Linked DNA regions of Homo sapiens. The protein of the gene in region 3 interacts with the protein of the main gene of each other region in a pairwise test. Each region holds a gene or a part of one and is shown on either strand. Other genes may lie near its edges. The genes, in order: TSC22D4, NUDT18 and APIP.

What was found.
Region 1: the proteins of APIP (region 3) and TSC22D4 interact in binary tests that used the Homo sapiens proteins (3 or more experiments, as listed by UniProt).
Region 2: the proteins of APIP (region 3) and NUDT18 interact in binary tests that used the Homo sapiens proteins (3 or more experiments, as listed by UniProt).

The regions. Positions count from the first base shown.
Region 1 is NC_000007.14:100,477,086-100,480,830, forward strand, and holds the start of TSC22D4 (TSC22 domain family protein 4), read right to left. Parts: upstream 2,130-3,745; 5' UTR 1,709-2,129; intron 1,223-1,708; 5' UTR 954-1,222; coding exon 192-953; intron 1-191. Other genes in the region: TSC22D4-C7ORF61 (uncharacterized protein LOC122198330), read right to left, coding at 192-953.
Region 2 is NC_000008.11:22,107,359-22,111,103, forward strand, and holds the start of NUDT18 (8-oxo-dGDP phosphatase NUDT18), read right to left. Parts: upstream 1,943-3,745; coding exon 1,781-1,942; intron 989-1,780; coding exon 775-988; intron 538-774; coding exon 1-537. UniProt on the Homo sapiens protein: Mediates the hydrolysis of oxidized nucleoside diphosphate derivatives. Hydrolyzes 8-oxo-7,8-dihydroguanine (8-oxo-Gua)-containing deoxyribo- and ribonucleoside diphosphates to the monophosphates. Hydrolyzes 8-oxo-dGDP and 8-oxo-GDP with the same efficiencies.
Region 3 is NC_000011.10:34,895,724-34,899,468, forward strand, and holds part of APIP (methylthioribulose-1-phosphate dehydratase), read right to left. Parts: intron 1,133-3,745; coding exon of another isoform or gene 1,038-1,132; intron 1-1,037. UniProt on the Homo sapiens protein: Catalyzes the dehydration of methylthioribulose-1-phosphate (MTRu-1-P) into 2,3-diketo-5-methylthiopentyl-1-phosphate (DK-MTP-1-P).

The DNA.
Region 1 (3,745 bases), on a different chromosome or scaffold from region 3:
AAGGAGGCTGAGACAGAAAATGAAGTAGGAGGAAGGGGCTTCAGAGTGACCTGGCAGGCACAGAGAAGAGGGCTATCTGATCTTATAAAGTGATGGAGAAGGAGGAGGAGAGGGGGGGGAGGAGGAGGAAGGAGGCTCAAGATAGAGGTTAGGCCAGGGCTGATGGGCCAGCCCTAGAACCCAGGTCTTACCTGCCCCATCTCTTCTGGAGCACCCAACTCCATCCGCAGCCGCATGTCTACAGCTTTCCTCCGGGACAGTGGAGGGGTCCTGGCCCCTGAGCCCCCAGCCTCCGCTTCCACCCTCAGAGAGGGCAGGGGCGTGGCAGCCCGGGATGTGCCCGCACTCTCACCGGTCTCAGGCTCTGGGGGGCGCTGCTGGGGTGAGGAGGCCGACAGTGGGGGTTTCTCTGCCTTGGCTTTGCTGGGCACCACCAGCTGGCCCAGTCCCCCAGTGAAGGAGCGGGCCTGAGGTCCAGGAGAGGTGGGGGGTGGACGGAGCCAGGAGGTGGGGCCCTGAGACAGGCCTGACGGTGGGGTGGGGGCGCCCAGGCCGAGGCTGGCCAGCTCCAACCTGGAATCCAAAGATCTGCCCCCGGCGCCCCCTGAGGCCCCTCGAATTCCCTCCAGGAGTCCGCCGAAGCTGTGGGGCTCCAGGTCTCGCTCATAAACATCCACACACGTCCAGCGACCGCGGCGATAAGGCTCTCCCAGGCCGTGGGGCAGCTTCACCACCCGGAAACGGGAGGAAGGGGCCCCAGGTGGTGGGGAGCCATTCCGGGGGGTGCCCTTGCCCCCCGGATCGGGGCTGGGCTCCCCATTGGGCAGGCGGGGCGGGGGCCCGGTTGGGGGCTGTGGGGTAGGGGGATCCGAAGCCCCTGGGCTCCCAGGGCCCTCATAGTCCGTGGTGACGCTGGTGATTTGGAAACTACTCTTCTTCTTGCCCCCGCTCATGGTCCCTGGGGCTCAGGGCTGGGCCAAGGTTGGGGGTGGGTTGGGGCTCCTTGAAGGGGCTCAGGCACCCCTGGAACAAGGGGGCCACATGGCGGGGACATCCGAGCCCCTGGGGACGTCTGGGTCCGACATGGCAGGAGGGCCTGGCGGGAACCGGGGGTGCCTGCTGGGTGAGGGGAGAAGAGGAGAGGGGAGGTGGCGGGAGGGGGGAGCAGGGGCAGGTTTTTCCTGCTGCTGTTGCTGCTGAACTCCAGAGCTGAGTTTGCAAACTGGAAAAAGAGGGGGAGAGAGAGAGAGAGAGAGAGAGAGAGAGTGTGTGTGTGTGTGTGTGTGTGTGTGTGTGTGTGTGTGTGTGTGTGTGTGAAACCAGTGGGCAGGCCACCTCCGGGGCTTCCTCTCCGGGGAGCAGAGTGGGGGAAGGGGAAACCGTCAGAGACCCAGAGACAGGCAAGAGATGACAGAGACCAGGGCAGAGGGGACTGGATCCAAGAAGGCACTCAGAGTAGAAAGAGGCAGATGAGTCCCAGAGTTGGGCATTTCTCGCCTGGGATTCTGACTCAGGGGGCCCGTATTGTCCCAAGAGCTCGGACTCCAGGGCCTGGGAGAACCAGGCTGAAGCAGCTCCCCAGCCTGGCCCGGCCACTCAGAGAGACCTCTCCTGGGCCTCGAGCCCCCACCCTCACCCCAGCTCCCACATCTCTGGGGCAGGCCCTGCCCGGCTACCCCCCAGCGCCCCACCCAGCCCTGAACCCTACCTCTGGGGCCTCGGCCACTGATCTGAGCCTGAGGGTCCCGGCGCCTAAGAGGTCGGGCTGTCCGTTCCCTGGGGCCTCCTGGCCATGGGCAGTGGCGGGGCACGCAGGCGGCGATCAGAGGCTGTCCCGTCCTCTCCGGGGGCCGCGGCTCATCCTGCCAGGCATCTCCGAGGAAAGTTTGCTCTCCGGAAAAGAAGAAACCCGCGCCTCCTCCGAGGAGCCTAGGAGCGGCCTCTGAAGCCCCAAGGGTCTGGAGACTGATGTGGGAGGGGGCGGCCGAGCCCCCCTCTGCTCCCGGTGGCAGCCAGCGAGTGGGTGTCCCGAGTCTCCTCCCGCGTGACCCTGCTGGGTCCGTGTCTCCGCTCCTCGGCTCCCCTGGGTCTCTGCCTCTCCGTCTTTCTCTTTCTGGGCTGTTGACAACCCCCACACCAGGAAGTCCTGCCTCCTCGGGCCTGCTGACTGCTCCTCTCCTCCTCCTCCTCCTCCTTCCCCTCTTCCTCCCCTTCCTCCTCCCTCCCTCCCTCCTGGGGCTTCCCGCCAGCTGGCCCGGGGCCAGGCCTGCCACAGCCGCTGCTGTTGCAGTTGCTGCAGCCACTGCTTAGGCTGCTGCTCCTGGGGGCCCCAAACAGACTCCCTTAACCCCACACCTGCCGGGCCCTAGCCCCACTCTTGCAGGGAGGGGCTGCAGGGGGCGGGGCTCGGGGAGAAAGGGGAGGAGCTTGCAGGGAGGCGAGGGATTCCCTTACTTGTAGTCAATTGCTGCCATTGGCCTAGAGACACACAGAAGAGACGGAAGGCACAGGCCGGGAGGTGTGCTGCATGCCCACCCAGAAGTTCCCAGTCCCTGCTGTGGGGCAGCTGTGGCTGTTACTGTCATTCTCCTTTGGTTTTCACAGCAACTGCATTATTCCCCCCATTCCTTATTTTTAAAAGTGGATTATTGCCGGATCCCGGTGGTGGCTCATGCCTGTAATCTCCGCACTTTGGGAGGTCGAGGAAGGAGGATCGCTTGAGACCAGTTTGGACAATATAATAGCAAGACCCCATCTCTACAAAAAATAAAAAAAAATAGCTGGGCATGGTGATGTGCACCTATAATTCCAGCTACTCAAAGGTGGGAGGATCGCTTGAGCCCAGGAGTTCGTGACCAGCCTGGGCAATATAACGAGATCCCCATCTCTACAAAAAATTTAAAAAATTAGCACTTTGGGAGGCCGAGGCGGGCGGATCACGAGGTCAAGAGATTAAGACCATCCTGGCCAACATGGTGAAACCAAGTCTCTACTTAAAATACAAAAATTAGCCAGGTGTGGTGGCGGGCACCTGTAGTCCCAGCTACTCGGGAGGCTGAGGCAGGAGAATCACTTCAACCTGGGAGGCGGAGGTTGCAGTGAGTCGAGATCACGCCACTGCACTCCAGCCTGGTGACAGAGTGAGACTCCATCTTAAAAAAAAAAAAAAACTGAGTGTGGTGATGTATACCTGTAGTCCCAGCTACTCAGGAGGCTGTGAGGCAGGAGGATCTCTTGAGCCCAGGAGGTTGAGGATGCAGTGAGCCAAGATTGTGCCACTGCACTCCAGCCTGGGCAACAGAGTGAGACCATGTCTCAAAAAAAAAAAAAAAGTGGATTATTATGAAAATTTTCAAACATGCCATGCAGACATGGGGAGACCATGCAAACTCCACACAGATGGTGGTCCCAGCCCAAAATCAATTTTTAGAAAATCATCAATGTTATAATGAAATGACATTCAATGAAATGACATTGTGTGGGGGCCAGCTGTAGTTTGCTGGACTATTTGAAATCAGATCCTAGATGTTATACTATTCCCCTTTCCCCCAACCTGCCCCCGCCTTTTTTTTTAGAGACAGGGTCTCTCTCTCTCTCTGTTGCCCAGGATGGAGTGCAGTGGTGCGATCATAGCTCACCACAGCCTGGAACTCCTGGGCTCAAGCCATGCTCCTGCCTCAGCCTCCCAAGTAGCTGGGACCACAGACACACACTACTACGCCTGGCTAAATTTCTTTAAAAAAAA
Region 2 (3,745 bases), on a different chromosome or scaffold from region 3:
GGTCTTCCTCCATCACCTTCCACCAAGAGAAGTTCTCACCCCGAACTTTTGGGGGTTCATCCTGGATCCCTGGGCTCCGAAAAGCCACGGTCACCAGCACATTCAAACAGATGCCATCACTGTGATCTCGGCCCAGGTGCTGCAGTCCAAGCAACCCCTTGATCTCCACCACCAAGTGGTGCAGGGTCAGACACTCCTGCAGCAGCCGCAGGACGGCCATCTTCATGCCACCCCTCTGCTCCATAGGGTCGAGGCCACAGGCAGTGACAGGCAAGTGAGGCATCCCCACTGTGCCCACTAACACCCACACTGTCTGGGCGCTGGTAAAGGTAGCCACGAGCCGCTGGCAGACCAGATCACAGGGTAGCTCTTGGGGCAGAATGAGAGGGTGCCTGGCTTGCTGGCGATACTGGGCGGCTAGTTCAACCAGGTGCAGGATGTCATGGGCTCGCAGCGGAGTGGGCAGGGAGGTCCGTGGGTACCAGGCAGCCTGCAGGGACTCCGCATCGGCCTCCTTGGAAGTCTTGAGAATTCCACCTGGGGGAGATGTGGGGGATGGGGCAGGGAGGGTCTGTGTGGAGAGAAGTGCAGCTCTGGCAGAGTCAACAGACATCCCTGACCCAGGAGAGAGGCCCCCAGCCCAAAGGCTGGAATCTGCCCATGCCAGGCTGTGCCAGCCATAACAGGACTGGCTGTAGAGGGGCTCACCTCACCGAGGAGCTGGGGGAAAGGTGTCAACTGGCCCTGTTCACACTGCCTCCAGGTGGGCCATACCTGTGGGGCGAGCGAGGAACACGAAGCGGACCCAGGAGGGGCCCCGCTCCTCCACGGACAGCAGTGTCTCGGGCTCACAGTGCAGCCCCGCCTCCTCCTTCACCTCCCGCTGCAGCGCCTCCACGATGGTCTCCCCTGGCTCCATTCTCCCCGCAGGCAGGTACCACGACCCCCGGCACTCCCTCTTGGCCTCCTGGATCAGTAGCACCTCATCCTGAGAGGAGAGAGGATCCTCACTTCCTGCCACAGCCTTCCCTCGCCCCGGGACCAGGGGGCATCTCAAACACAGTCGCCCAAGACTCCCCTCTGGGTGGACACTCTCAACCCAGCTAGCGCTCCAGGAGACCTGCCCTCGTGTCGCTGGGGGCTGCAGCCCTCTCCTCTCTGCAATTCGTCTCTCTCTGGATTTAGGAAGACTTCCATTTCAGGAAGGGCTGAGATTCCTGGAAGCCGCTTCAGGGGCTGGAGATGAGGCCCCAGAGTGAGGGTCACCATGTGTCTGTCTGTCTTGGATTGATTTGCGTCTGTACCTGCCACTGTGTATCTCTCGCCTCCAACGGCGTGGTTTACAAACTGTGATGGGTCCTCACACTGGGGTCTGGCTTGAAACACGACCCCCACCTCCGCTCTGTACAACCCCGCCCTATGGCCCTGGCCCCGTCTAGTTGTCATTACATCGCCCACTACAGGCATCAGCACCAAAGGCCTGAAGGTAAGCCGGGATTGAGCCACTGCTATCTGAGGGGCCCTGGGCACTCCGCTAGACTCTGGGGAAGGGAAGGAATGAGGCCTAGTCGGATGAGACAAACAGGCCCCGGGCCTCAGTTTCCTCTTCTGCATATCGGGACGAACGCAGGACACAGATGCGAGTGGGAGTGGGAGTGCTTTGCAAAACTGGGAAGCGCCACGCACGCGGCAGCGCTGGCTGTGGCCGTTGGGTCTTCTGTCCCCACCTGGGCTGGCTGCGCGCTCCCGAGGCCCGGCGGGCCCGGGGGCGGCCGCTCACCTGCTCGCTGAGGAACACGGCCAGCACCACGTAGCACACGTTCTTCCGCAGCCGCACGGGCGCCGGCGGCTCCCCGGCCGGCGCCGAGTCGCAGCTGTGCACGCTGGACCCCTGGCCAGCCAGCACGGAAGCCAGCGCCCCCGCCAGGCCCTCCGAGGCCATCGGGTCCCCCGGGGGGCGGCGGGCCGGATCCTCGCAGACCGACTGAGCCGAGCCGCGGGCTAGAGTGCGCTGCGGAGCCCGCTCCCAGTCCCTGCGGCAGCGGGCCGGGAGCTCACGAGAACGCGGAAGCGCACGCGAACGCGGAAGCGCACGCGAGCTCTGGCCGCTGATAGGCTGCGCGGCGCCGCGGCCTGCCCGGATTGGCCGGCCCGCGGCATTCACCGAGGGGGCGGGGCCGCCCGGGGCCGCCCTGGAACTGGGGGGGCACGGGTCCGGAGCCCAGCGGACCCCGCCCGGCTTCTGCCGCCTGTCAGTCCCGTGCGCTCGGGACGTCTCCCAGCCGCCACCCGCTCGCCAACTCCCCGAGCGCGCACTGGTCTGCAGGAGCTCCGACGGTGACGTCATCTTTCCTGCAGGGCGCGTTGCGCCGCCGGGGTAGGCGACGGTGACGCGACAATCCGGTGACGTCACGGAGGCCCGGGGCCGCCCCCTGGAACCACTGTCCCGCTGTTGCCGTAAACACACAATGGCATTGCCGGAGTTGATCATATCCCAAATACCTTTCTTCTCATTCCACCAAAGAGTTATAAATGTCACATGGCCCGTGGGGTGGGGGACATAAACCCCTGCCTTGAAGGAGATTCTGCAATAGTTGGAGAGATGGACGGAGTCCTAGATGAGGAGTCAGCTGAGGGTTCGAGGCTAAGTGCTAAATGCTTGGTTTGGGCAGGAAGAGTGACAGGCGCTGGAAGGAGGGAGGGGGCAGGGCTGGGGATGGCGGGAGGGGTCCGGGGCTGAGAGAAGGCTGCCGTCAGCCGGCCCACCCTCATCAGTGTCCCTCTGCCTACCGCATTTCCCACGCAGCTCAAGGCCCTCTCTGCTGCAGATGGTGCGCCCTGGGAGGGCGGGGGTGGGGCCCTGCTCCTCCATCCTTGTCGTCACCCTCCCACCCAGCGTGCAGGACCTGGCGCGTGGAGAGCAGGGTGGGGGTGGTTGTGGCGAGCGCCTGCTCCTCTCCCAGCTCGGCCTTTCCTCCTTCACCCCACCTCAGCACTGGAAGGCAAAGCCAGCTGGAAGGGATCTGCGAAGCAGGCCGTCTGGCTCCTCACCTGGCAGAGGCCACCCCTTTCCTCTGCCTCTGATAGTTTTGTGCGCCTCCCTGCTAGGGAGACTGTGGCTTGGTGGTGTGGACAAAGCTCAGGACCTGCAGCCAGATGGCCAGCCACTGCTGACTGGCTTGCTCTGTGCTCCTGGGTGAGCTGTGGGCCTCAATTTTCTTATTTGTAGAGCAGGATCATAGCAATTCTTCTTTTACAGGGGTGTTGGGAAGCCACAACAATTGGAGAGGAGCTGTGTGGATTGTCCAGCACTGGGCACCGTCCCCAGGCAGCCCACCAACCCTCAGGGGTGGTCCCTCTCCACCATAGCTCTTGCTACCACACGCAAGGCCTGCCCTCATGAAATGTGACTTTTGTTATCCCCTAGAGTCAGGGTTTCACTGTGTTGCTCAGATTGGAGGTGCAGTGGCGTGATCACAGCTCCTACTGCAGACTTGATCTCTTGGATTCGAGTCATCCTCCTGCCTCAGACTCCTGAGTAGCTGGGACTGCAGGTGTGCACCACCACGCCTGGCTAAATTTTTAATTTTTAATTCTTTGTAGAAACGAGGGTCTTGCTGTATTGCCCAGGCTGGTCTTGAACTCCTGGCCTCAGTGATCCTCCCACCTTGGCCTTCCAAAGTGCTGTGGTTGCAGGCATGAGCCACCATGCCTGGCGAAATGTGCCTGTAGAGCTGCCTTAGAA
Region 3 (3,745 bases):
ACGTGTTTATGAGTGTATGTGTGTGTATACAGACAGATAAATATCAAGTGTTATTTTTATAAGTCCAATGATTACTTCTTTAGAAAAAAGAGCCCACACCATTTTCTCCTGCTTTTTTGTGGTTTAAATTAATGAAAACAAAAATAAATAAATAAATAAATAAATGAAGAAGAAATACAATGAATTCCATTTTGGGCAGTATAATATACAATCCTTATCTTAAAAATAAGTACAAATGCTGAATAAATTATTTTTTAAAATATTTCAAAATAAGTTGTTGAGCTGGCAAGAAAGTAAAGTTTCACAGGGGCCATAAAAAATGAGAATGAGACTCTCACACCAGTTGGAATGGCGATCATTAAAAAGTCAGGAAACAATAGATGCTGGAGAGGATGTGGAGAAATAGGAATGCTTTTACACTGTTGGTGGGAGTGTAAATTAGTTCAACCATTGTGGAAGACAGTGTGGCGATTCCTCAAGGATCTAGAACCAGAAATACCATTTGACCTAGCAATCCCATTACTGGGATTCTACTATAAAGACACATACGTATGTTTACTGCAGCACTATTTACAATAGCAAAGACTTGGAACCAACCCAAATACCCATCAATGATAGAATGGATAAAGAAAATGTGACACATATACACAATGGAATACTATGCAGCCATAAAAAAGGATGAGCTCACGTCCTTTGCAGGGACATGGATGAAGCTGGAAACCATCATTCTCAGCAAACTAACACAGGAGCAGAAAACCAAACACTGCATGTTCTCACTCATAAATGGGATTTGAACAATGAGAACACATGGACACAGGGAGGGGAAAATCACACACCAGGGCCTGTCAGCAGATGGGGGGCTAGAGAAGGGATAGCATTAGGAGAAATACCTAACATAGATGATGAGTTGAGGGGTGCAGCAAACCACCATGGCACGTGTATACCTAAGTAACAAACCTGTAAGTTCTGCACACGTATCCCAGAACTTAAAAGCATAATAAAGCAACAACAACAACAACAAAGGAAAATGAGACTACCTGGGAGAGAAGTGAGCGCCAAAGCCAGAATGTTCCTGAAGGTATTGCAAAACTCTGGTGACCTTGAACTTCAATTTTGATAGCCATGTAAGCCACTAGAAGCATGAGACAAAACCCAGGGCCTGATCAATTCCAGGAAACCTAATGAAAAATCCCCACATAAACTGGAGACCCCACTGAGGTCTACCTTCAAGGTAACAGTGAACAAAATGAGATTCACTGTGGAGAAAATCACAACAAGGAAGCATGCCTTTACAGATCCGGTCACTGGGTAAAGGGGGAAAAACATCTTTGAGTTCAAAAAGCGATCATTATTTAACAGGTTGAATTCTCAGCTACTTAGCTGAATACTTGAAATTGTGGTGTTTTTCCCCAGATTTAGTGCTAATGTTCTACTTACTCATTTTAAGTATTACAAATGATGACTGATGGAGTAAACTTCAAAATATAAAATTAAAAACTTGAGAATCTAGAAATTTCTAAAAGTTCTGATTCAACTTAGACTTGGAGTTAGCTGACTTAAAAGTCTAATCCACATTACTGGATTTATTGCCTACATGACTTTGGGTGTCAGTTTACTTATCCACACAATGAAAATGCTGTGAGGATTAAAATGAGATACAATGGACATAATGCAGTCAGCATGAAATCTGACACAATGTCAGTTTCCTTTTCATTTTAAAGAGCTGAAAATTCTTGAATTAAAATAGCAAAACTATTATAGGAGTTATTAAGAAATTATTTTAGACAGAGAGGGTAAGGTTGGTAAGGTTTTGTTTTCTTTTAATAATGCAGCTTAGTAAGGTTTTTTTTTTTCTTTTAATAATGCAGCTCCAAAAACATTTCTTTTCTAGCAGAAAAGCAGCTTAAAGGGCCAGGATAGCAAGCTTTGATGTGCAAATGCCAGCCATTAGAAACCGGGTCCATCCAATATGGTGATTCCCACCCTCTTCTTGTCACCATGTGTGTCAAGCATCATGGCCACCCCAGATATCTTCACGTGTGCAGAACATCATGGTGGCCTGTATTTGAATATTAAAAGGCTAGGGTGGGAAGGCTAGTTTTTTTCGTGGGCTACCTGAGTGACATACCTGGTCAAACCAATCCCCTGGGCCCTATGAAAATCAGACACCACCTCCTCCAGCCTCCTAATAGAACCGACTGTTTTCCCGCTCCACTTGGGGTTTTCTCTCTCTGCTTGGAGCCACCCTCCATCTCTGTACAGGGGAGCTTCTTTCTTCTTTCTTATTAAACTCTCCATTCCTTAAAACCACTCCACGTGTGTCCATGTTATTTATCTAAATTGGTGCGAGACAAAGGGCCCTGGTGTTCCTTCAGTTATCAGAGCCATATCATTTTGGTGTGTTGGCCAAGAATCCGAGGTACAACATTCATCGGATGGTGAGTATAGGAGCAAGCTTAAAATCTGTTCTATCATTCTGAGGGGCTCTTGGCCTCTATTTTAAAATCAAATCAAATCAATCAACAGGCATCCTTCAGCTGGTTAAAAATATGCTTATCACGACTGCCATTCTAAGGCCTCAGATGTTAGGCTTGCTGGTGGAGAACACGGAGAACCCCCCTCAATACCCACGGGTCATTGGGAGTGTCGGCCGTGTTTCGAATCAGTTTCCTTTCACGGGGAAACCTTACCATCGCGTGAGGCTGGGAAAGTTCTGGCCAGGACACACCCTGGCGTTATTCAAAGGCCTCTGGGTCGGACCCAGCCTCCAACAGCCCATTTCGGGTTTTGGCAGAGAATCCCCAGCTATCCTGTCACAAAACTCTCCTTCTTTTTCTATCCACAGTCTCTCTCTCTCTCTGATGTGCGGGAATTTAGTAACCAGGAGTTTAGCTCAGGAATGCTGTTGCAATCTTCTAGGAACAGAGGGTTCCTTTCCTCCCCCTCCTCCCCGCTCCCACCCAGAGTGAGCGTCTCTCTCTCTGCCCTTGGTCTGGAGAGTGCATGGCATTTCCAGGTCTCTCTACTACTACTCTGGCGAGCACATAGTATTTCTTTCTTTGGTTTTTTTTTTTTTTTTTTTTTTTTTTTTTTGAGGCAGAGTCTCGCTCTTTCGCCCAGGCTGGAGTGCAGTGACGTGATCTCGGCTCACTGCAAGCTCCGCCTCCCGGGTTCACGCCATTCTCCTGCCTCAGCCTCCCGAGTAGCTGGGACTACAGGCGCCCGCCACCGCGCCCAGCTAATTGTTTGTATTTTTAGTAGAGATGGGGGTTTCACCGTGTTAGCCAGGATGGTCTCAATCTCCTGACCTAGTGATCCACCTGCCTCGGCCTCCCAAAGTGCTGGGATTACAAGCCAGGATGGTCTCAATCTCCTGACCTAGTGATCCACCTGCCTCGGCCTCCCAAAGTGCTGGGATTACAGGCGTGAGCCACTGAGCCCGGCCTCGAGCAAATAGTATTTCTAAACCAACAGTGCCACCTAGTGGAAACAGAAATCTTCATGAGGCACATTTTTTTTTCTTTTATGGTAACACTGCAGCTTCCTTTTGCACCACTAGAAATCGGGCTCTAAGCCTCTTCTGTGAACAGGAAAATTCTGCTTTCAACAGATAGGAGTTAAATGTCTTCTGTGGCCAAATTTTAGTCTCAATATTGTCCCATCAGCAGGAAAATGGCCGTTTGGTTCCTACGTTCCTTTAAGGCACCTATTCTGTCTCTGATTAAGGTAGTACTGAGCTAGTAAG